Regions from separate parts of the Homo sapiens genome. Here all the other regions are reported to be linked to region 1. Evidence: microRNA targets listed by miRTarBase, many of them from high-throughput screens and not tested one by one. Region 1 holds a microRNA gene; each other region holds the end of a gene's coding sequence.

Evidence for each region. The annotated mature microRNA hsa-miR-128-3p reads UCACAGUGAACCGGUCUCUUU and lies in region 1 at 2,774-2,794, opposite strand. An mRNA with a match to its seed (bases 2 to 7 or 8) in the 3' UTR can be bound and repressed. Matches are read on the target gene's strand: a 7mer-m8 pairs with bases 2 to 8, a 7mer-A1 pairs with bases 2 to 7 and ends in A, and an 8mer does both.
Region 2: miRTarBase lists SNAI1 as a target of hsa-miR-128-3p. Seed matches in the 3' UTR shown: 7mer-A1 at 1,403-1,409.
Region 3: miRTarBase lists NBEA as a target of hsa-miR-128-3p. The part of its 3' UTR that is shown has no 7-base or 8-base seed match.
Region 4: the mRNA of ARHGAP5 is a reported target of hsa-miR-128-3p. Seed matches in the 3' UTR shown: 7mer-A1 at 5,274-5,280.
Region 5: the mRNA of KCTD14 is a reported target of hsa-miR-128-3p. Seed matches in the 3' UTR shown: 7mer-A1 at 1,845-1,851.
Region 6: the mRNA of KLF4 is a reported target of hsa-miR-128-3p. Seed matches in the 3' UTR shown: 7mer-m8 at 3,061-3,067.

What each region holds. Positions count from the first base shown.
Region 1 is chr3:35,741,948-35,747,320 of GRCh38, reverse strand. It overlaps MIR128-2 (microRNA 128-2), which reads right to left and starts at 2,845; the gene lies at 2,762-2,845. It overlaps ARPP21 (cAMP regulated phosphoprotein 21), which reads right to left. Exons shown (of 21, transcript NM_001385562.1): 19 at 3,356-3,482.
Region 2 is chr20:49,987,249-49,992,621 of GRCh38, forward strand. It overlaps SNAI1 (snail family transcriptional repressor 1), which reads left to right. Exons shown (of 3, transcript NM_005985.4): 3 at 624-1,638. The coding sequence ends at 808. Among named protein-coding and RNA genes, the nearest start is that of SNAI1, 7.0 kb to the left of the region's middle. RefSeq lists an enhancer at 2,414-3,166.
Region 3 is chr13:35,669,607-35,674,979 of GRCh38, forward strand. It overlaps NBEA (neurobeachin), which reads left to right. Exons shown (of 59, transcript NM_001385012.1): 59 at 1,295-3,130. The coding sequence ends at 1,385. Among named protein-coding and RNA genes, the nearest start is that of LINC00445, 25 kb to the right of the region's middle.
Region 4 is chr14:32,154,299-32,159,671 of GRCh38, forward strand. It overlaps ARHGAP5 (Rho GTPase activating protein 5), which reads left to right. Exons shown (of 7, transcript NM_001030055.2): 7 at 323-5,373. The coding sequence ends at 650. Among named protein-coding and RNA genes, the nearest start is that of RNU6-7, 45 kb to the right of the region's middle.
Region 5 is chr11:78,012,733-78,018,105 of GRCh38, reverse strand. It overlaps KCTD14 (potassium channel tetramerization domain containing 14), which reads left to right. Exons shown (of 2, transcript NM_023930.4): 2 at 836-2,391. The coding sequence ends at 1,513. It overlaps NDUFC2-KCTD14 (NDUFC2-KCTD14 readthrough), which reads left to right. Exons shown (of 3, transcript NM_001203262.2): 3 at 836-2,391. Among named protein-coding and RNA genes, the nearest start is that of KCTD14, 7.9 kb to the left of the region's middle. RefSeq lists an enhancer at 956-1,456.
Region 6 is chr9:107,482,027-107,487,399 of GRCh38, forward strand. KLF4 (KLF transcription factor 4) reads right to left here. Exons shown (of 5, transcript NM_004235.6): 3 at 5,269-5,373; 4 at 5,002-5,166; 5 at 2,826-3,900. The coding sequence ends at 3,725. Among named protein-coding and RNA genes, the nearest start is that of KLF4, 5.1 kb to the right of the region's middle.

The DNA of each region.
Region 1 (5,373 bases):
TGCAATGGTGCAATCTCGACTCACTGCCACCTCCACCTCCCAGGTTCAAGCGATTCTCCTGCCTCAGCCTCCCCAAGTAGCTGGGATTACAGGCACCCGCCACCATGCCCAGCTAATTTTTATATATTTTTTAGTAGAGACGGGGTTTCACCCTGTTGGTCAGGCTGGTCTCGAGCTCCTGACCTCAGGTGATCCACCTGCCTCCACCTCCCAAAGTGCTGGGATTATAGGTGTGAGCCACCACACCTGGCCCCAACATTAGTGTTCTTTATTTATAATTACCACCAACATAGGCTTCCTCTTCCACATGTTTAGGACCTTTTACCATGTGCTGATCGGATGAAGAGTACAAAATCACCAGGATAAAGAACTTATGTCTCCCTACTGTGCCACAGGGGAACTCAGGTGTCCTATTTAATCAACAGTATAGTGTCCAGTTCACTTTACAAAAATTCACTGTGTAGAGTTTTAAGTCTTAGGAAAGATGTAGTAACTGACAGAGATTTCAATTCTGGCAAGAATGTAGGAGAAGGAAGAGAGGCTTTTTACTGCAATTAAATAAAGATTAAGAACAGCGCCAAGAAGCAAATTCAGATTAAAATCTCATTTGACTTTAACTGACATAATTCTGTCTCACTCTAATTTTAACCACGTGATAGCTGAGGATGTTATGACATAATCTGGTGTCATTATCAGATGAAGATGGAAAAGGGTCAGATCCCAAGACACACAGCTGCAGGAGGCAGGAGGAAGAACAAGTTAAAACATGACTGTGGGAGGGTGACATGCTGATAGTAGCCCATAGTTTGACTTAAAGATGGAGAAGTCTTATTTTCTAGTTCTTCCAGAAAATATAACTTATACAGTTATCTGAAGAGGCTCTTTCCTCTATGAGATAGTCCATCCACATAGAGTTGCTCTCACAAATGACTGCCATGACCATTTGGAAAGTTTCTGTTAGTCTCCCTAGGCTCAACAAAAGGACGCCCAGCTGTAGGACCCAGAGCCTCTGTGCACTCTCAAAGAGCCACTGTGTGGTCTGGTTACTTGGATTTTATTAGCAGAAGTGATTCTCTGTAAGGTCAGGGAACACCATCTGCTTTCCCAAATACTAGGTACATTCATCACTGTGGTGGAAACTGTGTTGGGATTTTAGGCCAGGTATCCAGTGTGGTGGTCACAAAAACTAAGAGCCCAAAGGTCTCAGTGTGCATGTGTATACTAATGCCATCATTTCTGGGGACAATACTGTTTATGATCATTTCACTTTTCTCACTTCCTCACCCTGTACAGGCCACATTAACTGGCACTCACTTCCTTGACACCCTAGGCACTGCCTTGCTTCTATATTTAGCTTGATGCTGCTCTAGAGTGCACTCTTCTCATTACAGTGTCATTATCTTACCTTGGGAGGGTCATTTTTGCGGTGATGTGGGAGAATGTGACAAACCAAAGCTACCAGGTTGCCATGGAATGTAGGTGGAGCCAGTGAGGTCTCTAACTGAATGGGAGAGGGTGTTTCCACATCCCTAAATTCTCCCATTGTGCTTTATTAAAGAGTAAAAAATGCCTCATATATTGTCTCTTGTTTTGACATCCACTAACAAAGTTAGTGAAGAGGAGAAAAAGCAATGGAGAAGTCAGTGGGGGAGGCCTAAACTTTTTTGAAATCTAATTCTGTTGCCCAGTTATCATATTCATCTAACTTTCTCATCCCCTCACATAGATCTAGAGTTTATGGGTTTAGTGGATTGCAGCATGTTTTGTAACTGCGTTTCTTTGTATGATGACACTCTACCACAAGACTGAAATAATCTCTTTAAAAATTGCCACACAATGGCACCAAACCTAATAAAAATCATTATAATTAGATATCTGCATCTTTTTTCTTCTAAAGGCATTAGTAACCAAGTAGAAAACTTGCACATAGCCTCTAAACCAAGATCCTCAAGATTGTAAATTAACCCTTTAATTAACGTTAGCATAAAATAAGATAGTCCAGAATGCAAGCAACACATTTCTACAGCATGTATCTAAACTGATAGCACCGTTACCACCAAAATGATAAAGGTAATAACGTTTTCCACAAATTAGAGAAAATATTGCCAAGTGATTTTTTAAAAATAAATAGTTATTTGAAACCCTTTAGTGTTCTCAAAACACTGTAAAAGTCTAAAGTCAATTCAGAGGTCAAATATATTCTTCCCCAAACTAATACAGTGCTGAAACAAGACAAAATCTGGCTGGAAGATATAGGTTTCTCTAATTCTTCTCCCACAGACTTTAAATAGGCCATGAGATAAACCAAAGAACATGTAACCATCCACAATACGGGGGAATTTAATTCTTTCTCCAATCTGACAGGATGCTAGCAGTGTCAGCATTGGTATTCTTAGGATGTCTGTGATTGGTGCTAATCCTTGGCAAGAACTGCACTTTTCTCATAGGTTATAAAAATGGTACATATTGTGTATATATTACATACATGTATCTGTATACATTCCATATGCATAACATAGATTCAGTGCAGAAATCAGATCACGGAGCAGGCATCTATGAGTAGCAGCAAGGAGCACGTGCTCTTTACATGACCTACTTACAGAAGGCAGAGTCTCCCCGTCAGGCAGTCTTCAGCATGACAATTAGCAGTTTTTCCTGCAGTTTGGTCAGCAGGAATGACACAAACCTCTCCCTAGCACAAGCCACTCAGCCCTGTCGGGTTCGTGCTGCTCTTTGGATAACGGCATTCCATTAGGAGTGTGACACAGTAGGGAAAGAGACCGGTTCACTGTGAGACCTGCTACTCACTCTCGTACAGTGTATCGGCCCCCCTTCCCACTGCACAGTGGCTGCCGGGCTCTGGGCAGGAGGCATGTGGCCATCATGAAAGTGAACCATGGAGTCAGAGTTCCACCGAGACACGCTGGATTGTCAATAGCCTTCTTCTAAAGGCAGTATCTTTTAGCACGATATTGAAACAACCTAATTTGGTTCCCTAGCCTTAAGAACAGAGGAAGCACTCTCTTCAAATTGAAAAGAAAAAAAAAATTAAAAGAAGGTATGAACTAGAAAGGTACGGACATGGTTGACTTTCTGCTTTAACAGAAGAAGGATCAAAAAATAATTTATGGAGACTGTTTAACATGCATGCCAGGGATGCTAGTCTGACATATGCTTCACCTTCTTGTACCTACTACTTTTCCACACAGAGTCAATCAAATGCTTTGTTATCTTCTCTGGGTAGAGAAAATGTGCTGGTTTAAATTGCCAAGCTTGGACACTCATCCAAAGAGTACAAGATTCACCAGCAAAAATAACTGGGTTGAGAAGCAAATGGGAAACAGATTCCAAGTACCTGCTTGCTGTGCTGCCTGTGGCATCTGTTGACTCCTCTGAGCGTTGTACTGAACCGGGGCCATGGGCCGGTACTGTTGCGTGGTTGAGGTAGGGTACTGACCAGATGGGTAATAATATACAGGCATCTGTGGAAGAAAGGAGGAAGAAAGCAGAGAATGAAAATGTAGATAATGTAAATTTTTAAACTTAAAATATGCTTTCGTCTTATAATTGTGGTAGGTTGTGAAGATGGCCACCGCAAACTTCTCCCATGCCTATGTGTATGTGCATGCTACTTCTCCCGTAAAGAGGCAAAATCCATTTCCCAAACTTAAATCTGAGCTGGTTCTGTGACTTTCTTTTACCAACGCCATGAGGCAGAAATGATGTCTGAGTCTTTCAAGTCTGATCCTAAAGAAGACTTGCAGCTTCCACGTCTGTAGGCGGGGAACCCAGCCAAGAGATAAAGAAGTCTAGACTATTCTGCTGCAGAAAAAGGCCATGTGGGGAACACAGGTACCCCCAATTGACTGGTTACCCTCCAGTTCCAGGCATGTAAGTGTAGCCCTAGTCAAGCCACCCCAGCCATATGGAGCAGAGATGAGCCATCTGTGATAAATCCTGCTCAATTGCTGACCTAGTCGTGATCATACAATGGTTGTTTTAAAACAAGACTTTTGTGTTTTTTAGATGAAACAAGAGAGAGTGAAACAGTTATCATCAACAACGAAAACCTACATTTTAAATATTATATCTAACTTGAATTGCTTTTCTAATGGAAACAGGGGTGAAACATGAAAACTGCTGATCTGTAGCCTAAAAGGAGCAGAGAATGCAATCATGAAATATGGTAGTCTATCAAAGCACATTGCAGAATGATTGGTACACACCACTATTCAAAAAAGTATGTTCAATCTAAAAGGGAAAATATGATAAAAATGTTGTTTATGCTACCTTCTTAACTTTCTTATGACTGAGAATGAATAAAATTATTCTGATTATTTGATTATGATCCAAATCAAATGTTTCCTGATCTGATAGACTTCTTTGCCTGCCTCAGTTCATTTATATTAAGGTCACTTTCTTACTGATCTTAGTTAATTATTTTCTATCTCTGGGCTTCTGAGTTTTCGCCTATCATATTCTCTAAAATAACAACTGAAGTACCCTAGTAGACCGCCTACAAACATTATATACATAGGATAAAATTACAAGTCAATTATTTGAGAACTGTGATTTTCATGGTTATTTTGTTTTCTGATTTGCTCAGGTCTAATAGGAAACACTTTTCTATTTCAATATTGCTGTTGAAACATATGTAACATATTTTGCTGCCTGAGGATAAAGTGGGAACAAAATATAACTTAATCTGTGTGAACCTGTAGCTCTGCAATTTCATGGAATCATGATGAATTATAACTGTGGCTACATAACATATGGATATTCAAGGGCAAGAGGCTGAATGAGTCTAAAGCAATCTTGGGTCAGTATCTGGCAACTAAGTCATTGTATACCTTGCTTATAGTGATTCGCTCTTACTACTTCTCTCTTTTTTGTCAGGCAGTTTATAACAATAAAAAACAAATAATTCTGGAGTAATAATAGCATTTAGCTATGCTCTGGCAAACTTTGGTGGTATTAAAGATGACTACCATTATGCATCAGATGCCTCCCAATATTAAAAATAGGAACAACTTTCATCTAATTTATTTGTCAGCATTTATATTTACATGTCTTTTAGGAAATAGCGTTTTGTTCCTTTAGAAAAGACTGTCTTGCTTAAATGTAAGCTCATGAATGTGATATCTATTCCTTGATCTCCCTTCTTATGTTCAATATAAAACATAAAATATCCTCAGGGATGAAGGAATTTATACTTAAAAATGTTCTGATGAGGACTAATGGTTACAATAAAAGTACAGCTGCATGGAAAAAAATTTTGAACTCAATTTTTGTTGTTGTTTGTTTTGTTTTTTTTCTTTTCCCCAGACATAGCTTCTGTGATACCTTCACAAGCTGTGCTAGAGATTTGGCTAC
Region 2 (5,373 bases), not on the chromosome of region 1:
GTGGCCTAACCAGCTTGGAGGTGGGGGTGGGGAAGCCTCTTAAGGCTGACTCTGGCTTTGGCCCCCAACAGAGTAAATCAAGGAATGACTCCAGGACTGATGGTAAGGACACCAGTCACGTCCTCCCTTGACTGAAGGCAGTAAGGGCAGTAGGTGAAATCAGAGGCTTTGGGGTCCTGCCAGGGGAACCTGAACATGCTACTTCTGGGCCTCAGTTTCACTGTCTCTGAAATGAGACCACAGTAGGATCAAGTGACAGTAGGATGAATCAGTAAAGGTGTTGAGTCATTGTTGACCACTTCGCACGTCCCTGCGGGATGTGGATGAGTACCCTACCTTCTGTCACTTATCAACCCCTATGAGTGGGGGGTGAATAGCCCCATTTTACAGGTGGGAAAATGGAGGCTCAGAGAAGCCAGACAACTTGCTCAGAGTTGCACAGTGGGAAGCAGCAGAGCTCCGTCAGGTCCCGGCCTTTGGACCCTGGCTGTGTGTTTGACGGAGGCCTGGCTTTCCTGGGATCATGGGATTCTTTCAGGGTTTGGGGTATGCGGGGAGGGATTCCCATCACTGCCAGCCGTTGTCCCACGGCTCACTCGGCCTTTCTGGCGTTCTCTCCCCAGGCGAGAAGCCCTTCTCCTGTCCCCACTGCAGCCGTGCCTTCGCTGACCGCTCCAACCTGCGGGCCCACCTCCAGACCCACTCAGATGTCAAGAAGTACCAGTGCCAGGCGTGTGCTCGGACCTTCTCCCGAATGTCCCTGCTCCACAAGCACCAAGAGTCCGGCTGCTCAGGATGTCCCCGCTGACCCTCGAGGCTCCCTCTTCCTCTCCATACCTGCCCCTGCCTGACAGCCTTCCCCAGCTCCAGCAGGAAGGACCCCACATCCTTCTCACTGCCATGGAATTCCCTCCTGAGTGCCCCACTTCTGGCCACATCAGCCCCACAGGACTTTGATGAAGACCATTTTCTGGTTCTGTGTCCTCTGCCTGGGCTCTGGAAGAGGCCTTCCCATGGCCATTTCTGTGGAGGGAGGGCAGCTGGCCCCCAGCCCTGGGGGATTCCTGAGCTGGCCTGTCTGCGTGGGTTTTTGTATCCAGAGCTGTTTGGATACAGCTGCTTTGAGCTACAGGACAAAGGCTGACAGACTCACTGGGAAGCTCCCACCCCACTCAGGGGACCCCACTCCCCTCACACACACCCCCCCACAAGGAACCCTCAGGCCACCCTCCACGAGGTGTGACTAACTATGCAATAATCCACCCCCAGGTGCAGCCCCAGGGCCTGCGGAGGCGGTGGCAGACTAGAGTCTGAGATGCCCCGAGCCCAGGCAGCTATTTCAGCCTCCTGTTTGGTGGGGTGGCACCTGTTTCCCGGGCAATTTAACAATGTCTGAAAAGGGACTGTGAGTAATGGCTGTCACTTGTCGGGGGCCCAAGTGGGGTGCTCTGGTCTGACCGATGTGTCTCCCAGAACTATTCTGGGGGCCCGACAGGTGGGCCTGGGAGGAAGATGTTTACATTTTTAAAGGTACACTGGTATTTATATTTCAAACATTTTGTATCAAGGAAACGTTTTGTATAGTTATATGTACAGTTTATTGATATTCAATAAAGCAGTTAATTTATATATTAAAAAGTCTTTGGTGTCATAGAGGAGTGGGTATTTTGAAAGGTCTTTGGTAAGGGAGGAGGGGACAGGAATTCCTGAAGCTTAGATATTTCTGACACAGCCTTAAATCTTGTCCTTGGAAACATCATAGGGCTTTGGAGTCCTGGGTGTCACTGTCAGGGACCTTATGAGACTGGGTTTTCCCGTTGGCCTGGGTGTCCTGTCTGCTGCTGTTTGGGTGAGCCAGCGGCATCCATACGAGCTCTTCACTATACACTGTGGCTTTTTACTTTCTCGTTCTTGAATTTTGAAGTTGATCTGGCCCACGGAGTGCAAAGCTGGCTTCCTGGGTCTTATCAACTAGACAGGCTGCAAAGCTCTGCCCCAGCACTGCAGGTCTTTTGGGGTGGGATTGTCCGCTTCCCCCAGATGCGAGTGGAATGCGACCAAGGAGACAGAGGATGTCCTTCCTGTTTCCAAGGGCTCCAGGCCCCCTTGGGCCTCCTTGTCAGTCCCACACCTCCGTCTTGCTGCTGGGTACCAAATGGCCTTTGATGCGAGGAAATTGGCTGGCTGGAGCCAGTAGGGTGAGAAGCCAGGCCAAAGGGTAGGGGTCACTCAGCTTCCTGCTCCGAGGACGGCGGGACGGTCAGCATGCGTCTTGGGCTAGGGTAATTCATTCCCCGCCAGCCGATGGTGGTGACCTCACCACTGGGGGCCTCTTGGGGCCAGGAGAAAATGAGTGTCCTTTTTGAACACAAAAGGTGCTGGAGGTGCCAGTTTCCTGTGAGGAGCTGAGGCGTCCCAGAGCTTCGGAGCCCCAGAGTCAGGCTGGGGGTGGGGGGAGCTTCATGTTCCAAAGGAGAGATGATTCTTTCTTCTAAACAGGAAATGGTGACCCGCAGGCCGGGAGCAGCCCTTAATGACTTGCAGCTTTCCTCCCAAAAGGAAAAAAAAAAACGTTCTCTAACAATCGCCAAATTGTGGCCTGCCTCCCTGAAGGGAAGTTAGGGAGTTGGGGGGATGGGGGTTGGGCATCCATGAGCTGAAGGCCTACTGTGTCCTGGGTCCCTGCGGGTCCCTCTAGGTCGTCTCCATCCACCCACAGTAGGTGCTGAATGAATGATTTCATGACTTCACATAATCCCTGGGGGTCGGGCCTCCGGAAAATGAGGCACAGAGGTGGGCTTGCCTGAGGTCACCAAGCCCGGCCCCTCAGGTCATCCTGGGAGTTCGGTAGGCTGGGCTCATGCCGCTGACTCTCAGGGCACCTGGAGCAAGGCTCTCTCCCTCTGGGGGCCCCAGTTTCTGTGTCTATAAAACAGGGTGACAGTAGTGCCTTCCTCTCGGAGACTGTACAGAGGCATTCATTCATTCAGGGGTTTCGAGGGTACCATATGTGCCAGGCCCTGGGGTTACACCCGTGAACAAGACAGGCCATCCCTGCGTTCATGGGACGTATGTTCTGGTCGGGGAGAGAGAAAGCAAACAAGTGATTAAATAAACAAGCCGCTTTTCTACAGTGATGGTGCCAGGACAGAATGAAAGGGTGCCAGGCACTAGAGAACAACGGGGTGGGGCTCCCCAGGCCAAGGCAGTGAGAGCCCTGGAAGAGCTGAATTCCAGCCCGGACCTGAAGGAGGAGAAAGATGCCGGCAGGGAAGGATCTGGGGGAGGGAATAGCAAGCCTGCTGGAATGTGCTGCCCCCATGAGAAAGACCAGGATGGCGGAGGGACTGGGAAGACAGGGTGGGAGAGGAGAGTGGGCCCAGCTCTGCAGAGCTTGTGGTGCTAAGCAGGTGGGAATTTTGTCTAAGCCCCTAGGGCAGCCACTGGGGCTGTAAAGCAGGAGAGTGCTGAGGCCTGCTGTTACCTTTCCTACAAAGATCTCCCTGGCTGCTTGGGAGAATGGATCTCAGGGGTCCAGGAGGAGAAAGACAAAGGCAGGGAGACCATGAGAAAGCCAGAGGGGGCCAGGCACCCTGGCTCATGCCTGTAATCCCAGCAATTTGGGAGGCTTAGACAGGCAGATCACCTGAGGCTAGGAGTTCGACACCAGCCTGGCTAACATGGCAAAACCCCGTCTCTACTAAAATAAAAAATTACCCGGGCATGGTGGGGCATATGCCTGTAGTCCCAGCTACTTGGGAAGCTGAGGCAGGAGAATCGCTTGAGGTCGGGAGCTGAGATCTCGCCACTGCACTCCAGCCTGGGTCACAGAACGAGACCTTGTCTCAAACAAACAAACAAACAAAAAAGGGCCAGAGGGGAGGGAGGGAAGGAAAGGAGGGAGGATGGTGGCCTGGCTCAGGGTGTTGGTGGCCTTGGAGATGAAGCCTGTATTTAAGAAACTTGTGGCAGTTGTGGCCACCCAGCCCATGGCCCAGCACACCTGAGCCCTAGTGGGTGACAGTTATTTAGTATTATTATCTGGGGAACTGGGCATGGTGGTTCACATCTGTGTAGTCCTAGCTATTTAGAGGCTGAAGTGTGAGGGTTGCTGGAGCCCAGGAGTCCAAGGCCAGCCTGGACAACACATCGAGACATTGTCTCTACAAAAAAATTTAAAAATTGGCCGGGCGAGGTGGCTCACGCCTGTAATCCCAGCACTTTGGGAGGCCAAGGTGGGGCAGATCACTTGAGGCCAGGAGTTCGAGACCAGCCTGGCCAACATGGTGAAACCCCGTCTCTACTAAAAATACAAAAATTAGCTGGGTGTGGTGTCATATGCCTGTAATCCCAGCTACTTGAGAGGCTGAGCACGAGAATCCCTTGAACTTGGGAGGCAGAGGTTGCAGTAAGCCGAGGTCGTGCCACTGCACTCCAGCCTGGGCTACAGAGTGACACTCTGTCTCAAAAAAAAAAAAAAAAAAAAAAAAAAAAAAGTCCGGGCTTGGTGGAGCACACCACCAAGGGGATGTTGGATCTAGTGGGGGTAGATACTATGAAGCTGAGAAAAGAATGGGGAAAGCCTCTATATTCTGATCCTGAGCAAACCCCAAAGCACTAAGTGAAAAAGAAATCACCGGCAGATGTGCTCCCTTCTGTGGGCAGAAGAGGGATGAAAATCATCAACACGTGATTCATTCTTGTTTGTATTTGCATACGGAGACTCTGGAGGTTAGGACAATATACTAACAAAAGTGGTTCCCTGGTGGGTTGCAGGAGGTGGGATTGGGGTGGACAAGGACTGGAGGGAGGGAAGAAGGGAGCCATTTTTTAAAGATTTTTAAGACGTTTTACTTTGAAATAATTGCAGCCTGACAGAAATTGCAAGAAACAGTAAACTGGAATCGTACATTCAGATTCTTCAATACGTTAACGTTTTATCATGGATACATCTTCCCTCTCTTCCTAGACATACACACACATTATTTAGTTCTGAACCATTTGAATTTTTTTTTTTTTTCAGATGGAGTCTCGCTGTGTCACCCAGGCTGGGATGCAATGGCGTGATCTCGGCTCACTGCGACATCTGCCTCCTGGGTTGAAGCGATTCTTGTGCCTCAGCCTCCCCAGTGGCTGGAATTACAGGCATGTGCCACCATGCTCGGCTAATTTTTGTATTTTTAGTAGAGACGGGGTTTCACCATATTGGCCAGGCTGGTCTCGAACTTATGGCCTCAAGTGATCTGCCCGCCTCAGCCTCCCAAAGTGCCGGGATTACAGGTGTGAGCCACGGCGCCCGGCCTGAACCATATGAGAGTAAGTTATAGACACAGTGCCCCTTTACTGCTAAATATTTAAGCTATGTGTCCTAAG
Region 3 (5,373 bases), not on the chromosome of region 1:
GGTTTGTTGTGTTACTATTTGTATATATGTGTGTTTCCAGAGTGTTTGAAATGATTTGTGTTTGTAAGCAGTTTCAATATTTCCCTGATATTCTTACTCGTTCGTGTATTCATTTTGCTGCCATCATCATAGGTTGAGTGCAGTGCAAAGTACTAAGGATCCACAACAAGAAACTGACCCCAGAGAGCTCAGATCCTCATAATCATTGCATATGAGGGCACCAGGAACAGACTAACAGAAGAAGGAAGGGATGAACTCTTCTTGAGGGCTGGGAAGGGCAGGAAAGACCTTAGAAGAGGCTCATCCATTCACCAGGCATGAACAGACAGGGTGGATGGAAGAGCATATTCAAAGTTGCAGTAGTATTAGGGGGTCTCAATGGAGGGGGGAAAGATACTAAGTTTCTATTTCTATTTTAACCTCATCCTTGGTTTTGATTATTTTGTTGTTTTATAATGAATAGTGCATGCATATCAATTATAAACTGATAAACATATATTGGGGATATTACTCAAAAGGTATTTATTGGATGAGGTGTCTAATCAAAAGTGAAGCAACACTTTATGTAGACAGAAATCCTGAAACCTGAGTTCAGTCAGTGGCAGTGGGACTGGGGAGGAATATCCCTGAAAAAGAAGCCTCAGAGCTGAACAGCTGATCAGTTAGGAGGGAGAGGGAGAGGAGACAAGGTGACTTAACCAGCAAAAGACCAGCAAGGTCAGAAGGTACCAGTGATTCATGGTGGACATGTTGAATCTGAGGGTTTTGTGACACAGCCTGGCAGTGACCTCCACTTGGCAATGGGAAATCAGCATCTGGGGCTTCAGAATGAGACGTCGTTGCCTTTACGTCCAGGGAGACTGTGGACCGAGAGGACAAGAGGTGGAGTGATTCAAGGGGGCAAAGAAAAGAAAGGTCACAGAGATAGGAAGAGATGCCAGATATCCTCAGAGAAGCCAATAGATGCCCAAAACAAGGCAGCGGACAGGCACGTGTGTGATTGCTGAGAGAAATGGGGCACCCAGCGGAGGCTGGAAATGTGGTTCCGTGGGCCCCTCACGCTCTGCAGCAGGGCTGGCTGTCCAGGTGTGTGCGGGCTAACTGTGCTCCTCTCAGCAGAACCAAGAAGAAATTTCAGTCCTACTTCCATGAATACAAAATTAAGACTTGGCAAACCTTGAGATCGTGATATTGTCTAGTGTAAAATGCCAAACTTTGAGATACTGTCTAGTGTAAAATAGCAACCACAGAAATGATTTTATATCACTCTTAACTGCTGTTTCTGCTTTTCCAGGACTCTGATCACTGGCATGGCTTCTGGTAGCATTGTAGCTTTTAATATAGATTTTAATCGGTGGCATTATGAGCATCAGAACAGATACTGAAGATAAAGGAAGAACCAAAAGCCAAGTTAAAGCTGAGAGCACAAGTGCTGCATGGAAAGGCAATATCTCTGGTGGAAAAAACTCGTCTACATCGACCTCCGTTTGTACATTCCATCACACCCAGCAATAGCTGTACATTGTAGTCAGCAACCATTTTACTTTGTGTGTTTTTTCACGACTGAACACCAGCTGCTATCAAGCAAGCTTATATCATGTAAATTATATGAATTAGGAGATGTTTTGGTAATTATTTCATATATTGTTGTTTATTGAGAAAAGGTTGTAGGATGTGTCACAAGAGACTTTTGACAATTCTGAGGAACCTTGTGTCCAGTTGTTACAAAGTTTAAGCTTTGAACCTAACCTGCATCCCATTTCCAGCCTCTTTTCAAGCTGAGAAAAAAAAAAAAAAACACGTTTGATACTTTGTACATCAGATGCATCTTATTTAAAAGGGATACTTTTGTAAAAGTAAAACCTTGTATAAAGAACAAAATGTTTCTTAATTTTATTGTGGAGTTACAACTTGCATGTTCCTTACTCCTGTTGGCTTGATGGAACAGGTGCATTCACACTATGAAACAGAAAGATCTGTCCAAGGACACAGCTTGTATGAAAGGGTTGAATTTGGGCTCCATCAGTAATTTTTGACATTTTCACCAAAATATAGTTTGCACTTTTTAATCTAAAGTCATCCCTTCTGAGTGAAATTTGCTCATAAAGCATTTGGATACTAAGCCATTATTTGCCATTTTGGGTACTTTATACAAAGAAAATTCAGCCCTACCCTGCATAATTTGAAGACACAGCAGAAAGGGGGCTTAGGGATGAGGTCCTGGTTTTTCTTGTATAAATAGGAGTCATGGGCGTTAGTTCTGTAGTAATAACTTCCCAGCACCTGGACATCTCTTCCAGAGTTATCCCACTGGCTTGGTGTGTATACATTAGGGGAGGATAATCTGATGCTAACTTTTTTTTTCTCTTTGGTTCTTGAATAGCTTAGTTTCTTTAATAACAAGTCAAACTTTATTACAACAATAACTGAAGTTATTCTTTTAGGTTCTCGTGAAATTCTCACTGAAAGCCACATTCTTAGCCTAAGGCATTTCATCTTTTATGATATAAAATGATGGCTATCAAATGATTTTCCATACATTGTACTGATCAAGTTATACACCCAGGGGTATATACACTTTCTTCATGTTTCTTCTTTGTATATTTGGTGACTGTATCGTCATAGATGTACATATTGTGTCGGTAGGGCTATGAGGCATGTTACAGGAATGTAATTTTCTCAGAATTTACACTCACTCGCAGTCATTTATTTAAAAAGATAAAACAAGATAATGGGTTCTTTGTATTGGCACTTTGCACCAGAAACATATCATTATTTATTGATGTGATTACTTATTTGTTATCCACCTTGTACTAGTAAGTTTTAGCACTGAATTCCTTCTTCACTGTTGTTTGTATTTATGAAATTCTGAAATTATGGGGAATCAGCGTAATGATTAAGTTATTCATCACCAGGCTGTAAGCAATATCTTGAGTTTGTAGCTTAGAATTGGGAGGATACTTAACATCTGGAAGACAAGTTCATTTCATCTTGAGATCATGGTGAAATATTTTGGATATATAAATTCCTTAAGCTATTGTAACCATGTTTTATTGCAAAGATGTAAAATATGCCAGATGTGTGTGAGTTGGAAATCAAAAAAAGAAAAATAAAATATGCAAAGAATTCACCGACTGTTTCAGATTTCATTGGACATGTCACTAGCATGCTTTCATTGTGTTGTCATACAGGTTTCCGAAGTCATCATCATCTGATGTAGAGCCTACAGCATCTAAAAACATGAAATCGAGTCCTAATGAGGTTCTGCAATTTGCTGAAACCTGAGCTGCTCTGCCGAGCCATCTGGCAGGGATCTGGGGCAACAGCGACCATGGGGAAACGGCCCTCATTGTCTATTCTGCATAATCCACTTTGGGGATTGTCTTTATTTTATTTAAAAGGAACTAAGTAGTGAAGGTTATAATAACTCCTTTTTTGAGTGTTATCACATAATGCCTTTTTCATTTGAAACCACACCTTCTAGAACCCATCAGTGACCAGGCATGGCACAGGCAGGGACCGAGGACCTGGAGAGGCTGAGCAGCTGCTAGCAAGGGCAGCCACGAGTGGGCTGAGGGGGATTCGGTCACACAGATTGGCATGGGTGGTAGCAAGGGCAGCCACGAGTGGGCTGAGGGGGATTCGGTCACACAGATTGGCATGGGTGGTTGGGGCAGCGGCCCAGACAGGCCCAGAGAATGACAGAACTGCAGGCCGTGCTTCCATCCGCATTCCCGAGACTAAAGGGACAGACCCAACAGTAGCCTAAGGAAGGTTTGCGCTCTTACTTTCCATCCTATCCCCAAACCAGAAATCTGTCAGTCATCTGCCCTGCTGGCTCCCTCACCCAGCCCTCCTGCCAGGCACTCCAGCCAACTGACTGATCACTACCTAAAGTGTCTTTTGAAACTGCCCCTGCCCTTTCCAGCACTGTCATCTGGACTGTCCGAAAACCTCCTGACCTCTGACCTGTCCCCTCCCATCCATGCTCCGCCCTGCTGCGAAGGCACCCATCCAGTCATCTCCCTCCCTGCCGCCCCGCGCCCCCCTAGTGCCCCCCAGCGCCCCCCAGAACCCCCCAGCACTTTGAAAAACCAATACCAATGGCTTAAAATGGTATTCTTAAACTCTGGTGGGTTGAAAATCACCTGGGGAGCTTATTTTTAAAAGCAGGATCTAGAGTCCCACCGCTCCCCCCTCCCACCCCAAGCACTTCTTGGGCACATTTTCAACAACACTGATTGGAGGGATAAATTCTAAGCTCAGTGAAGCGAAGTCCTTCAGGAACCACCCCCAGCAGCCAGCACCCCTAGTAAACCAGCCTTTTTCCAAGTTCCTGAGAACTCTCTTGCACCTGAGTCCCTAAGGCTCCTCCTGCCAGGCGGCCCCTCTCTGCCTGCACCACTCGCCTACTGCCTTGTCGCAGATTGACCTAAACCAATTTGGTCATGCACAGTCTTTTTTGGCAGGTAAAGGTAGCCCCCAAAACACCACATCTTCACTATTTCATGATGAAAACAACTTTTAGAAACAGTTTCTGCTATGTGTGGGGATACCTTTTTTTTTTTTTTTAATTGAGACAGAGTATCACTCTGTTGCCCAGGCTGGAGAGCAGTGGCGGAATAATCTCGGCTCACTGCAACCGCCGCCTCCTGGGTTCAAGCAACTCTTCCAGCTCAGCCTCCCAAGTAGCTGGGATTACAGGCACGCATCACCATGCCCAGCTAATTTTTTTTGTTCTTAGTAGAGATGGGTTTCGCCATGTTGGCCAGGCTGGTCTTGAACTTCTGACCTCAAGTGATCTGCCCACCTCAGCCTCCCAAAGTGCTGGGACTACAGGCGTGAGCCACTGCGCCCGGCCGGTATACTTTTAAATGAAACACATTTTAGCAAGCAGGCAAAAGAGTGCCTGCAACTCTTCTGTGAGTTTGGTGAAGTCCAGAGCTTGGCTTTTTTACGTGATCTCAAAATCATTTTACATTTCCAAAGGTACACTTGAAGCAGATGCACTAATATTCTAGAAGTAGCATCCCATGAGCCTTGTAATGCCATCAGCAGCCTCAATCCTCCAACCCAATCATCAAGCCATCAAGCTCTGGGCACCACCCTAAGAGTATGTGCTAAAAGCCTCATTAGATTGTTAAACCCTGGTTATAGAGAGGTAGGAAAAGTTCAAATACTTTAGCCAGCATATACTGAATTTATATGTATATTTAGCATCATTAATTCCATCAACAAAAGAACATTTCTATCATCCATTGAACTAATTTAGAAGCCAATAATTTCCCCTGCTGCAAAGCCATTTCTAGTATTTACTACCCTAACTCATAGAGCTTCCAGTTTATTCAGGATTAGGAAGCTGGATTGTTGGAA
Region 4 (5,373 bases), not on the chromosome of region 1:
GTCACTACGCCTGGCTAATTTTGTATTTTTAGTAGAGATGGGGTTTCTCCATGTTGGTCCTGCTGGTGTCGAACTCCCAACCTCAGGTGATCCGCCTGCCTCAGCCTCCCAAAGTGCTGCGATTACAGGCGTGAGCCACTGCACCTGGCCCAGGAAAAGTTTTTTACATACGAATTAAAGATGCTTCTTTATGCAAATTTTTAAACCCCAGGTTTGAAGTAGGATAAAAGGTAACATTAAATCTGAGATCATTTCTAGCTCTGGAATTCTGTGATTGTAATGAGTTTTGATTTCTAAATGTTTTTTCCTTTCATAATTTCAGGGTTAGTCAGCAACATAAAATCAACCTAATGACAGCAGACAACTTATCCATCTGTTTTTGGCCAACCTTGATGAGACCTGATTTTGAAAATCGAGAGTTTCTGTCTACTACTAAGATTCATCAATCTGTTGTTGAAACATTCATTCAGCAGTGTCAGTTTTTCTTTTACAATGGAGAAATTGTAGAAACGACAAACATTGTGGCTCCTCCACCACCTTCAAACCCAGGACAGTTGGTGGAACCAATGGTGCCACTTCAGTTGCCGCCACCATTGCAACCTCAGCTGATACAACCACAATTACAAACGGATCCTCTTGGTATTATATGAGTAGGAAGTGATTGCAAACAGGCTGGATTTGGACAAAAAGCAAATCTAGACATGCATGTTTCAGGGTTCAGTAGTATACTTCATGTTTCATACAGATAATTCACATTCAAAATTACATTTTCTCTTTGAACTAGATGGTATTCCTTATTCACTTACATTACAAATCTAAGACCATGTGATAAGCATGACTGGAGAGGTTTAATTTTTATAAACAAAAATAGCTATAAAGTACAAAGCTGCTGCTGCATGCAACCTTATTGCAATCAGTATATCATTCCTGTGGCAATTTCTGTCACCTTATATTGTGAATAAAATTTTTCTATAGAAATTAAATGATTTAAAAACTCACCTATATGAAACATTTAATGCTTTTCAGCCTGCTTTCTGGCTGATTTTGTTATTTGATGTGCTAATTTGGGCAACTTAATTTACATTCTGGCAGTCGGTGTAGATAACTAAAAGCCCAGTTAAGTATTTTATAATTTCAGGCTACTGAGGCCATGCTTGGGATGTTGTTTGAAAGAAAGAAAAAATACACTTGACATATTTCACATTTCTGTACCTTCATCTTTACTTCCAAGTAAACCCGTGGATGATTTGATGAGGGATAAATGAACCTATTTCTTTTACACACATACCAAGGACATGCTTGTGGCTAAAGTGAGTTGATAATGTTGTGCAAAGGATAGTTGTCACCAACTCATTTCTTTATGGTCCATAATGAAATAAAAATTTTGTATACTGTTAATTCTGTAAACAGATGCATGTTCAAAAGATCTATGATGGTCTTGTAATCTTAATCTAATATATTTTAGATATTTTAATTTTTTCCCTCTTGGGGAACACATTTAGTATAGTGTAGAAAATACTTCCATGACATTTTCATATAAGGTTATATAACTTTTCATACATAAACATGAAATTTGTTGTAGAAAATTCTTTAAACCAAACATTTAAATCTAGGACTTCAATTTAATTTGTTCCTTGAATCTATTTTTATGTGGCCCTTAAAAAATATCCAAAAAACCCATTGCTAATATAGCAATAAAAATACTTTGGGTACTGACAGACTCTTTGGAGTGTTTATATTACAAATTTGTATTCATATTCTTTTCTGTGATGTGTTGTACTAAAATCCAAAATGGCTTTTGCACCATTTTTAAGCCAATTTTTTCCTTTGATGTTGGTACCAGAATTACTATAAGTGACTGCTGCTTTTGGGGGTAAACATTTTGTTAGTGAAGATAAAACCAGAACACTAAATTATGGATAAAATTTTCAGAATAGGTGGCACAGGTAAATTTCACTAGGTTATATTTTGTGTAGTAAAGAAAAAAATTATTTGGTCAATGTTATCTTAATTCATACTACAATTTAAGATTATCTTATGTGTATTATAGTAAATAGATGATTTTCAGATTCAAGGCTCCTAAGAGTTTGATTTGCTCTGTTTTTTCCTAAAATAAATATTGTCTCTCCCAACTGTTAAGTTCTAGGTATTGTACTTCCAATTTTAACTTCAGAACCAAGATGTTGGCATGAACCAGGCTGCTGTTGAAGTACATGTATATTATAAATTATCTTATTTGTGTTATACTCTTACATGTTATCTTTTCTAAGAAAACAAAGTCCCTATTATTCCTATTGCAAAGCACACAGGAATTAAGAAAGTACAGTAATTTTTAAAAAAAAATCCGGTAAATGTAGTATTCTTAACCTGTTCTATATTACTTATACCTATTGTCTATATAGCTTTAATTTATAGTTGTCAGTTTAACTATTGGCATGTCTGGCAAAGAAAATTAAACTTTAAGAGTTTTATAAACTGTTTCTAGGTTGCTAAAGAATTTATTTTTCTACTATATATGGTATAGACAAAGCATCAAACTATGTACAGGAAAAAAGCCTGACTATTTCTATTTGGAAGTAGGCTGAAAAGAGAATTTTCAAAACTGTTCGTGTCTTCAGTTCATTCTGTCATAACTTTGCTATTGTAATATGTGAATACCAGTTTATTTAAGCTGTTCTCTTTTATACTGTATTAATTTAATGTTCATCTGCGTTTAGTACCATTTTTGTTATTAAAACTGGCATTTACCGTTTTTCACATTAACCCACCTTGCACCTTCCCCCAAACTTATCTCCACTTTTCTATGCATTCTATCATTGATTTGACACACTTCATAGTGAGTCATTTAAATACTCTACGTTTGGTTCAATTAACCAGTAGGTTACAGTTATTGAAAATTAAAGTACAGTTTAAAGCTCAGTCTGTTACACTGAATTGATTGTGTTTGTTTTTGCCAAGGGTTTAGATATGCTTTTAAATATTAGAAACATCTAAGAACAGAATAACATAATTAAACTTTTTTCTGGTAAGTTACTGGAAGGTTTCACTGTTTAGGGACCTATCATATGAGACTTCTTAAAGGATTAAAAGAATAGGATAGTCTCATAATTGTGAGTAAACATCAAGGCATTATATTTTACAATACTGAATAAAATTTCATCTACACACATGTTGCCATTGTTTCATTTAAGGTTCAGTGCTTATAGTTAACTACAATATTGGACCTAACAGGATCTAGATTAGCAATATAAAGAAGCATAGTGGTACTCTGTTTCACACTTTCAGTAGATTTATTAGAAGTCAAATTCTATTCAACAGACACTTATTAGGATATACAACTAATTTAAGAATAAAATTCCAGGCACAATATATTTTTTTTAAATGGTATTTGTTAGTAGTGCTTCTTCCCCTTAACATTTACAGTGTAAATACTGCAGGTAACCGCAATCTAAGTTAGCCAAAAAGCAGCTTTTTTTCCCATACTGTATGTAAATAATGTAGACCTGGGTTTTTTTGTTTATTTGGGTTTGTTTTTTTTTTTGAGGTACTGGAATCTAATTAATATCTCTTAGGTATCAACAAAAGGGAACAATTGGAATGAGAATTTAGGCCTTAGCTTCCATGGTGATTTTTAGTTTTTTATACAGTAATAATTGTGATGCTATTTGTCAACTGGATATAAATACACATATAATTTTAAAAAGTCAAAAGTGCTTTTGTTTCTTTGTTTAATGTAATTTTTGTGCTTCACCTACAGGATGCTGCAGTAAATTAAATATCAGTGAAGCTTCTGATGTATAAAGAATGCTATGAATAAAACATTAAGAAGCTGTGTAATTTTAAGTTATAGTTGCCTCTATTTTTACCATTTCATTGGTAAAAATTAGCTAATTTTTTTCAAGTGAAATGAAAAATAAAAATATAAATTTATCAATATGATGGAAATCTTATTAAGGAGATGTATTATTGAATTTTCACTGTACCTGAAAAGGAGATTCAAAATTTTTTCTGGGGATGTATATAGGTGAAAATTTGATTTTTTAAATTATCAGGAAAACAAGATAATGCACAGATTTCTAAGACTAAGATCTTACCTGGATGTGATTTTTGAGCTGTGGCTAGACATTCTTTAGAGCCACTGGAAATATTTTGAAAACTATTCTAGTTATAGCAGAGCTGCTAATATTAACGAATATATTTGTGTCTTCATGGTTTGTGACTATTAGGCCAAATTTTGTGGTATATGTTGTCAGTCTGGATCTGGTGAGGTCTGTTCAACATGAATCTTTGTGTTATCTTGAATTTAGTAGTTTCAAGGTACTTAAATTCTTAACAGTTTCTAATTTGTTTCAATACATATGGGACATGGTTGATTTTTTTACTGTATTAGAACTCTTGGAAGTTCTTAGCCTTTTCAGGTTATGAAATACCTGAAAGTAAAATTTTCTAAGATTTAATAAGGGAAGATACTATTCAAATCATTTTCTTAGGATAGCATCTTTACATACAATGAGAGGATTGTACAAGCATTAATCTCATATTCCAACATCCAGTTACTTGATGTGATCCAAGTACCCTGGTCTTTTTGAAGCAGTTAAAATCTAATTAATTAACTTTGGGAGTCTTCACTATTCAATTGATCCTCATCATTGTCCTATTTGCATGACTCCATTTTTTCCTCCACTATATGAGTTTTCTTTGTCAGGGGGAGAGGAGTGGGAAGAGTCACAGAATCTCATATTCACATCTTAATTAAATTGTGTGAAATTAGTCTTTTGTGGAAATTCTGTAGGCAGTATGATTTTGAAAAGCTAACCAATGATAATTAGCATTTTAGTTAATACTAAATGCATAAAATTATAACCCTTGAAATTAATTTGGTGCTGGCAGTTCTGGTTTAGTCATTTTTACCAGTAGTTAGTAGTATTAAGACCTGCAGTATATGCACTTTTTGAGTAGCTGTCAAATAATTGTAGTTGAGAAACAACTTGTTTATTCTCACAATTCAGATTTTCTATTCAGTTTTGTCTCAAATAGTAAGTTATTGTGAACAATTTAATAACGGCCCTCCTGTTCTAGTTTGCCTAATATTTTAGTTAAGATTTAGTGTTTTAACCTATTTTTTTAAGTTTATTTTTTGTATTAGATTTTATTTGAATAAGTTATGTGGGTTTAGTAATTGACCTATTTATTCATTGCTTCACTAATTCATCCAGATTAGTTTTAAGTGTGTATATGTATTTGCTCACCAGATCATTTTCTTGGGACCTTGAACTGTGAATGTTTTGTCCTAACCATTTAATATTTTCTAGGTACTTGCTGCAAGTTCTTGAACTATTTTACCAGCTTTAACTTTGGGGCTCTTAGTTTCTT
Region 5 (5,373 bases), not on the chromosome of region 1:
TGGTTTTTTGAGACAGAGTCTTACTCTGTCACCCAGGCTGGAGTGCAGTGGGGTGATCTTGGCTCACTGCAGCCTCCACCTCCTAGGTTCAGGTGATTCTTGTGCCTCAGCCTCCTGAGTAGCTGGGATTACAGGCGCGTGCCATCACACCTGGCTAATTTTTGTATTTTTAGTAGAAACAGGGTTTTGCCAAGTTGGCCAGGCTTGTCTTGAACTCCTGACCTCAGGTGATCTGCCTGCCTCATCCTCCCAAAGTGCTGGGATTACAGGCGTGAGCCACCGTGCCTGGCCTCCTCCCATAACATTCTATGACCTAAAATTAAGATGCTTGAATGGGTATTCTTTTTTCAAACAGAAATCTTTCTTCCTCTTTAAAATGCCCACCCTCGGCCGGGCACTGTGGGAGGCTGAGGCAGGCGGATCACGTGAGGTCAGGAGTTTGAGACCAGACTAGCAAACATGGCGAAACCTCGTCTTTACTAAAAATACAAAAATTAGTTGGGCATGATGGCAGGCGCCTGCAGTCCCAGCGATTAGGGAGGCTGAGGCAGGAGAGTTGCTTTAATCGAGGTGGAAGTTGCAGTGAGCCGAGATTGCACCACTGCACCCTAGCCTGGGTGACAGAGCGAGACTCCGTCGAAAAAAAAAAAAAAAGCCCACCCCCTGGAGCAACACAGCATAAATATAACCCTCTTTAGTAAGATGGGCCTTTCACTAGCTGAAGCCAATCATTATGGCTCCCCTAAGTTTTTTATCCAGTTATCCTTTGGATAAAAATAAGTAATGCGCTCAGGGGAGATGGCGTGTTGGTTTACTCTGCCTCTTGTGCCCCCAGATGTCTACTGTTGTGGAGCTGAACGTCGGGGGTGAGTTCCACACCACCACCCTGGGTACCCTGAGGAAGTTTCCGGGCTCAAAGCTGGCAGAGATGTTCTCTAGCTTAGCCAAGGCCTCCACGGACGCGGAGGGCCGCTTCTTCATCGACCGCCCCAGCACCTATTTCAGACCCATCCTGGACTACCTGCGCACTGGGCAAGTGCCCACACAGCACATCCCTGAAGTGTACCGTGAGGCTCAGTTCTACGAAATCAAGCCTTTGGTCAAGCTGCTGGAGGACATGCCACAGATCTTTGGTGAGCAGGTGTCTCGGAAGCAGTTTTTGCTGCAAGTGCCGGGCTACAGCGAGAACCTGGAGCTCATGGTGCGCCTGGCACGTGCAGAAGCCATAACAGCACGGAAGTCCAGCGTGCTTGTGTGCCTGGTGGAAACTGAGGAGCAGGATGCATATTATTCAGAGGTCCTGTGTTTTCTGCAGGATAAGAAGATGTTCAAGTCTGTTGTCAAGTTTGGGCCCTGGAAGGCGGTCCTAGACAACAGCGACCTCATGCACTGCCTGGAGATGGACATTAAGGCCCAGGGGTACAAGGTATTCTCCAAGTTCTACCTGACGTACCCCACCAAAAGAAACGAATTCCATTTTAACATTTATTCATTCACCTTCACCTGGTGGTGATCCTCAGGAGCAGAGACTGTTATGAATTCTGGCGTGGCTTATGAAATTAAAAGTTGCCATCAAAGCCATTTTCTTTTAATTTCACAAACATCAGGCAATTTCCAGGGTTGGTCTAGAGTCTTGCCACTAAATATTGATCACTCGTTTAAGGACTTTCCACTCCATTGCAACTGATGCCACTATATTTGCCTAGCAACTTGCAGCTACTTCCTTTTCAAAGCCTCATGTATCTCCCAGACCCTTCTCTTGAAGTCCAATAACAAGACCAAGTAAGAATGTTTCAACAATGCGTTGGCAAGAGATGTGAGATGACAACAGGAACATACAAGATACTGTGAATCTAGATGTTCTGACCTAAAGATGTAGTCTACATAGCCCCAGCTTGGGGTCCAATCCATCTGTCCCTGGCATGTGCCTTCATGTAGTAGGTGCTTTCCTGATCCCCTTTGCGAGATGCTGTGGGTGCTAACACCTCAGAGCTGTCCTCTTCTCTAGAGTGGAGGTTTTCAAAGTGCATCATCAGCATTACCTGTGAACTTGCTGGAAATACAAATCCTCAGGCCCCACCTCAGACCTACTGAATCAGAATCTCTGGGGGTTGGCACAGCATTCTGATTTACCAAACCCTCCAAGTGATTTTGATGTATTCTAATTTTGAGACCATCTCTAGAAAAGAATTGCTACCTCTTGTATGGAGGTACAAAAGACTGACCTCTTACATCAAGGAACTTCCTTTCCCAGAGCTCCTCATGGAATCAAGCTGAAGTCAGTCTTCTTCTGAGAGCACATTCTTACTCAGTTTTTTTCCTCTGTCCTACGCTGCTTCCCTCACTCCCCTTCTCCTAAGAGCACTCCATCAATAAACCACTTGCACGAGAGTCTCAGTTTTGGTTCTGCTTCTCACCCTAATACAGGACTTGTCCTCTAAAGGAGGATACATGTAGACATTCATTCTTCTCCAAGTCCAGGTCTGAATTATATGACCCCCTTCCCTGCATAGTAGCTTGATCAGCTATGTGGGTTGTCTGGGACCTTCTTGGGACATAGGGTTTCTTTCTTGGGACCAAAGGGTTTCTTGGGATACAGGACTTCCAGTATGAAAACTTGGAAGTCTCATCGGGTGCAGTGGCTCACGCCTGTAATCACAGCACTTTGGGAGGCTGAGGCAGGCAGAGAACTTGAGGTCAGGGGTTCAAGACCAGCCTGGCCAACATGGTGAAACCCCATCTGTATTAGTCTGTTTTCACGCTGCTGATAAAGACATGCCTGAGACTGGGCAATTTACAAAAGAGAGAGTTTTAATGGACTTACAGTTCCACGTGGCTGGGGAAGCCTCACAATCATGGTGGAAGGTGAAAGGCATATCTCACATGACAACAGACAAGAGAGAGCAAGTGCAGGGAAACTCCCCTTTTTAAAACCATCAGATCTCATGAGACTTATTCACTATCACGAGAACAACACGGGAAAGACCTGCCCCCATGATTCAATTACCTCCCACAAGGTCCCTCCCACAACATGTGGGAATTCAAGATGAGATCTGGGTGGGGAGACAGCCAAACCATATCACTGTCTCTACTAAAAATAAAAAAATAGTTAGCCAGGTGTGGTGGCACATGCCTGTAGTCCCAGCTACTTGGAGGCTGAGGCATGAGAATCGCTTGAATCTGGGAGGCAAAGGTTGCAGTGAGCCAAGATCTCGCCACTGCACTCCAGCCTAAGTGACACAGGGAGACCCTGTCTCAAAAAATAAATAAATAAATAAATAAAACCAACTTGGAAGTCCCAGGCAAGCTAGAATGAGTACTGCCTACCCAATCCTCTCTCGCTTTATTTCTTTTCCCTTTGGGACACCTCTTCTGTGGTGACAGATCTGGAAGTGACCTCCTACTCAAGAGAGACCATGTGTACCTATAAGAACCTGGCTTTGCCTCCTAATGGGATAACCACTGTGTCTAGCCAGACCTTTCACAAACCACTGAATTTTTCACTTTGTGATACCTTCCCCTCCTGCAGTGTCATGTATATTTCAACCAATGTCCAGAAACTTTTCTTTTGGGTTAGAATCTGACTCCTTGAGGATACTTTCAGTTTTCTGTTCCTTGCCATTTCTTCAAAAGGCTGAGCAGCTGTCTCTAATACTTACAACTGACAACAGTAATTCATCCCATCCCTTTGAGAGCTCCGGGTTTGGGCCTGTGGGGTTGCTCCTATGCCCAAGTATTTTAAATATATTGTCCCTTGCCCTTGAGAAAAAAGGTCTAGTCTCCATGGTATGAGAACTTTCTAGGCCAGGCATGGTGGCTCACACCTGTAATCCTAGCACTTTGGGAGGGTGAGGCAGGAGGATTGCTTGAGCCCAGGAGTTCAAGACCAGCCTGAGCAACATAGTGAGACTCTGTCTCTATTTTTAAATTTTAAAATTAAAAAAATAAAAGAACTTTCTGGCTCCTCCTATTGCTAGAATCTCTCTGAGTCTCAAATGATAATAAAAAAGTCTCTTCCAACTCTGGTAAAACCACACACCTGTTCTCCCTGAGAACCTTACCAATCCCTTTATAGTTGTCCAGGTTGTATAAGGCAGTATGAAGAGCAATGGTTCTCAACTTTGGCTGCACATTAATTAGAATCACCTGGGATAAGTTAAAACCCTCCAATGTAGGGCATACCCAGGCAACACCTGAAACAAATCAGAATCTCTAGAGGTGGGGCCCAGGAAAGAATATTTTTTAAAGCTCCTTCAGATGACTTCATTGTGCAGTTAAGGCTGACAACTGCTGTAGAGTCTCATTAACTTCAGGCCAATAGCAGTTCACTGGTCGACCCAAACCAGGGGTGACCACTCCTCTTCATTGGTATGGACCCCATTCTAATTACCAACTTGTTCTAATCTATGGTGTGTATCAGGGCCAGGACTAGGCTTCTCGCTGACCTCACTTTAGTCTTGCCCTGGTGCAGATATACGTGATTACATGAGTTTTAATAAACTCAGATGGGGAAGGGTGCAGTGGCTAACGCCTGTAATCCCAGCACTTTGGGAGGCCGAGGCAGGTGGATCACTTGAGGTCAGGAGTTCAAGACCCACCTGGCCAACATGGTGAAACTAAATTTTCTACTAAAATACTCTACTGAAAATACAAAAAAATTAGCCAGGTGTGGTGGTACATGCCTGTAATCCCAGCTACTTTGGAGGCTGAGGCAGGATAATCACTTGAACCCAGGAGATGGAGGTTACAGTGAGCTGAGATCATCCCACTGCACTCCAGCCTGGGCAACAGAGTGAGACTTTGTTTCAAAAAAAAAAAAATCTCAGATGGTACTCCAAGAGGGATATTTCATCTGCTTATGAGTACAGGTGTTCATATGTTAATTCCCCAAATAACTTTTCCCAAACTTTTTATTTGGAAAGTTTTCATATACACAGAAAAGGTAAAAGAGTAGTATATTTAATTTTTTTCTTTTTTGAGACAGGTTCTCACTGTGTTGCCCAGGCTGGAGTGCAGTGGCACCATCTCGGCTCACTGCAACCTCCGCCTCTTGGGTTGAAGTGATTCTCCTGCCTTGGCCTCCCGGATAGGTGGAACTAGAAGCGTGTGCCACCACGCCGAGCTAATTTTTAAATTTTTAGTAAAGATGGGGTTTCACCATGTAGGCCAGTCTGGTCTTGAACTCCTGACCTTAGGTGAGCTGCCCACCTTGGCATCTCAAAATCCTGGGATTACAGGCATGAGCCACTGCATCTGGCCCACATTGAACTTTGTACCTAGCTCCTCCAGTTATTACTATTTTGACACATTTATGCGATCTTTCTCTATACACATGCATATATACATTTATAATCGTTCGCTGAACAATTTGAA
Region 6 (5,373 bases), not on the chromosome of region 1:
TTATCAGAAGAGACATTTTGCTGGAAAATAGGTGGACTGAAAGTCTGTTGATGTGTGTAGGAAACATCATTGTTAATCCTTTGTGTGTGTAGGCACACAAGTTAAAATAAGAAACAGTAAAATTAAGTGTCATAAGGAAAATATAATAAGCAGGCATCACAATTATTAGGTACTCTTTATTGTATAGTGTATAAACGGCTCTGTAACACCATAATGACAGCACACCTAGGAGCCCACAGCTGATAGGTCCCAGAGTAAATAATTTAGCTATTGGCGTATGTCGAATAGTATTTTGTTTGGTCACAGTTTTGGGAAATCTTCCTCATTCATTTTAGATATTGAAGCTTTCTTTTTCAGGCTAGAAAAAGTTAATGTAGGCTGGGTGCTATGGCTCATGCCTGTAATCCCAGCACTTTGGGAGGCCGAGGCAGGAGGATTGCTTGAGCTCAGGAGTTCGAGACCAAACCTGGGCGACATAGTGAGACCCTGCCTCTATAAAATTTTTTAAAATTAAATTAAAAATTAAAAAAATAGGGGTTGGGGAGAGGGAGCATCAGTTAGAATAGCTAATGGATGCTGGGTTTAATATCTAGGTGCAACAAACCACCATGGCACATGTTTGCCTATGTAACAAACCTTCACATCCTGCACATGTACCCTGAACTTAAAAGCTGAAGAAAAAGAATTAAATAAAAATTAAGAATAAAGAAAAAGTTAACGTAGAGGAATGTTAATCTATGACATCAGAAAATTTTAAATAAATTTAAAATTCTTGATAGTTTATGCATGTTTCTTCTATTCGAGATAATATGCACTTAGCAAATATAAAGATGGCATTTTTCAGTCATTTTCATACACCGTGTGCCAAAAGATTCTGTATAACAGAGGTGGATTACAAAAGCAACCAACCACAATTTAACAGAAATTTAAGAAATTTAAACTTAAAGAAATCTAAACATAATTTACAGAATAATGTGTTCTAATGAGGGCTTTTTGTTTAAATAATTTTAATTGTTCTTTATATCTTCATTCTTATGAAAAAGTTTTTCAAACTTACTATAGCTGTTTTAGAATATTTGAAAACTTCAAAAAAGAAAATTTAGGCTGGGCACGGTGGCTTATGCCTGTAATCCCAGCACTTTGGGAGGCCTAGGTGGACGGATCACTTGAGGTCAGCAGTTCGAAACCAGCCTGGCCAACATGGTGAGACCCTGTCTCTACTGAATATACAAAAATTCGTCGGGTGTGGTGGTGGGCGCCTGTAATCCCAGCTACTCAGGAGGCTGAGGCAGGAGAATCGTTTGAACCTGTGAAGTGGAGATTGCAGTGAGCCGAGATCACACCACTGCACTCCAGCCTTGGTGACAAGCAAGAATCCATCTCAAAAAAAAAGAAAAGAAAATTAAAACTGAGAAAACCAGTATGAATATTTTGGCAGTTCCTTCTAGGGTTTTCTCTTAATTTCCTTTTGTTTCTCTCTCTCTCCTTCAAAGCACACATACACTTAAATGTACACAGTTGAATTGGTACTGTTGATAGTCTTATATCCTGCTTTTTCCACTTAACATTACTATGAGCATTTTTCCATGTCATTAAATATGCTTTGAATATGTTCTTGGCCACATAAAATTCCATCCTATTGATGCACCTGTTTTCTTTTAAGCAGAGACACATGCTATGCTTTCCAGTCATGGTGGACTCTCAAAAGCCAAAGAAAATACCTTGTGCTGATCTACCATAAGCCTCTTATAAACATCCATTTTTTATTTCATTTATTACATGTACCCATGGTACAAACGCACCTCTGGACACTAGATACAATCAATAGTTAATAAGCACTCTAAAAAAAATGCCAGTGAGCAGTGAGCTCTGTCCCCTTGATGATGTTTAGTCACCCACATCACTATTACAAGTATATAAGGTGTCAACAAGTGTCACAAATGCTTTTTCCATTTTGCGATAGCCCCAAATGAATTTCAATCTTTCAGGCACCCATCTCAAGAACTTCAGATTCTAACAGGGCAGTTTTGAGTTTTAATATTAAAACTTCTAATATAAACGCTACAAACTTACCATAACACCATCTTACTTTACACTTAGTTTTATGAATTTGAATAATTTTTAAATTATTTTATTTCAGTTTGTTTTCCCACCTTCAGTCAGGGGAACTGATTTAGCTTTAAAACAATCTGCCAGAAACTTTGGTTCTGACCTCTTTAAGGCTGTAACTAGTAGAAGTGATGTATCTTTAACACACACCAAGCATAAATGAACCCTTTAATCCTCAGGAGGGCACTGTGGAACTACGTTCTTAGGGTTGTCTGCTGTAGGAAGGTTCTTTTGTTACTCAGATGTGAGGGGTGCTGGGACAGGCCTCCACAGAAAACTTTTTTATTTTTATTTACTTTAAAAGACAAACCATAAAGATTTTTTTCAAATATGAAACTGAAATGTATATATTTCATAAATATTTTCATACTAAACTGAGCAAATTTAAGGATGATTAAGCTGTTTCTACTGGGAAAATCATAGGTAAGGAAACTGCTTTCACGTAGCTTTACGTACATTTGGAAAGAGCAAACCTGAACTGGGTTTTTAATCTTGTAATTTTTAAACGTACAATAATCAAGAGTTCTCAGCCCTATATTGATAGTATTTATGGTAAAACTAAATAGTTTTTTTTTAATAAAAAAAGGTATTTTAATTTGTTGACATAAAGTTGGCTTTTTTGTGCGTGCTTCTTACATGCCTTATTAACCCGGTGTGTTTAAACCAAACACTGTTCATATTTTTCCAGGAGGAAAACAAAACAATAAAAAACATTATTCAGATAAAATATTATAGGTTTATTTAAAACTTAATTCTCACCTTGAGTATGCAAAATACAAACTCCACAAAATGTTCATTTTACTTTGTAGTTTACAAATATACAAAATAGACGTTTGCTTAAATTTATATTACATATTTATTAAGGCAAGGAACTATATAGAAAAACACATTTGTTCTGCTTAAGGCATACTTGGGAATAAACCATTGTACAAATTATTGCACATCTGAAACCACAGTGCATAACAGACTGTCTGCATAAAAATGCTAAAGAAGTAAACCAGGTATATTACCTGACTTAGGTCATAAATGTTGATCGGAAGACAAATATAGATTTTCCTTGTCAAAGTATGCAGCAGTTTGAAAACTTTGGCTTCCTTGTTTGGTACCTTTAGAACCAAGACTCACCAAGCACCATCATTTAGGCTATTTAAACATGTTTTCTGTACCTGAATTTCTTCCTCTTCTTCTAACATCATAATAATGGCTTTTAGAAGGTAAAGAGAATACAAGGTGATCTTTTATGCTTATATTGCATCAATACACAATTCAAGGGAATTCTGGTCTTCCCTCCCCCAACTCACGGATATAATTTATACCCTGATATCCACAACTTCCAGTCACCCCCTTGGCATTTTGTAAGTCCAGGAATATTCAAGTCGGATTTAGAATTGGAATGATAGAAGATCCAGTCACAGACCCCATCTGTTCTTTGATTTTTGTCTTTTGGATTCCTCATTTTTCCTGATTATCCACTCACAAGATGACTCAGTTGGGAACTTGACCATGATTGTAGTGCTTTCTGGCTGGGCTCCTTCCCTCATCGGGAAGACAGTGTGAAAAGTAAAAAATACTGAATTCTCTTCTGGCAGTGTGGGTCATATCCACTGTCTGGGATTTAAAAATGCCTCTTCATGTGTAAGGCGAGGTGGTCCGACCTGGAAAATGCTCGGTCGCATTTTTGGCACTGGAACGGGCGGTGCCCCGTGTGTTTACGGTAGTGCCTGGTCAGTTCATCTGAGCGGGCGAATTTCCATCCACAGCCGTCCCAGTCACAGTGGTAAGGTTTCTCACCTGTAAAGGTAAAAGAAAAAAAAAATTGACGCTATTGCTATATCAAAGAATCGCCCCTTTTAAAAACTGAAGGCCAGATAGTAAACCAACTCTGACCCTATCCTAAAGAAATCCAGGAATGTCTTTATACCACTGAAGGGGTGTATTGAATTCCATATCATAAACAGAAATACATTCCGTGCTTAAGTATTTGGTCTTGTTTTTAGGGGGTCAGTTAAGCACACAACCACCACCTACACCTATACTAATGTTTCACCAAAAACACACAAACACCACCTAAACCTATACTAATGTTTCATTTGAGTCAAGGCATCTCAGTGGTGGAAATGAAATTTGGAAATTGTGATTGGTAGTGTGCCCAAACCATGCAATCTTATTCCTACTACGACTGGGGATAAAAAGCCACAGGTGGCTACTTTTTTTTTCTTTACCTTTACGTTACTGAATGCTGCACCTAAACGACTTTGGGTACCTACTTACATTGACATGGAAATGCTCTGCAGTGACAACCCTAAATCAGAATCTTCCCAGCAATTTTGACCATCATATTCTTGGAATTTAAAATAAAACCTTCTGCTTGTGGGGGAAAAAAAATAAAAATGTAAATCAAAACGAACAAAAAATAAAAAATAAAAAAGTAAGACCGAATTGTTACGACCAGAATTCAAAATAACAAAAAGGGAGGGTGAACCTGGGAAGGGAACATTAAAAAACGATTTTTTTAAAAAAGCCATCATGCTTTTGCATAGCAAAGTATAATTTCTTGATTATAATGCCAAGCTAGGAGAGGCCCACAGACCGCGGGGAATCTCCTGCCTTTTAAAAGCCTAACAAAATTGCACATTCAAACACAGATACCATCCATCAAGCAAAAGGCTCCTGGGCAGAAAAGTAGGCGCCGGTTTGCTGTTCTCTCCAGTGATCCCGGAGATCAAGGCGATAGACTGCCCTGGGAAGCCAAGGAGGCACTGAGGAGTGTCCACTGGTAGCCTATGGGGCTGGAAGCTAACCTGGGAAGTCAAGGAGGCACTGAGGAGTGTCCACTGGTAGCCTATGGGGCTGGAAGCTAACCCCCCTCCCTTCTGCAGTTTGTCCCCCTACCTGTGTGGGTTCGCAGGTGTGCCTTGAGATGGGAACTCTTTGTGTAGGTTTTGCCGCAGCCCGCGTAATCACAAGTGTGGGTGGCGGTCCTTTTCCGGGGCCACGATCGTCTTCCCCTCTTTGGCTTGGGCTCCTCTGGCATGCAGGAACCGGGTGGCATGAGCTCTAGGGGTGAAGAAGGTGGGGTGAGCATCATCCCGTGTGTCCCGAAGTGGGGCCAGCACACACAGGGCTCCCCAGCCCGAGCTACAAATCCCCGGGACTGACCTTGGTAATGGAGCGGCGGGACTTGCGGCTGCATCTGATCGGGCAGGAAGGATGGGTAATTGGGCCCCGGGTGGGGATGGAAGCCGGGAGGAAGCGGCAGGGCAG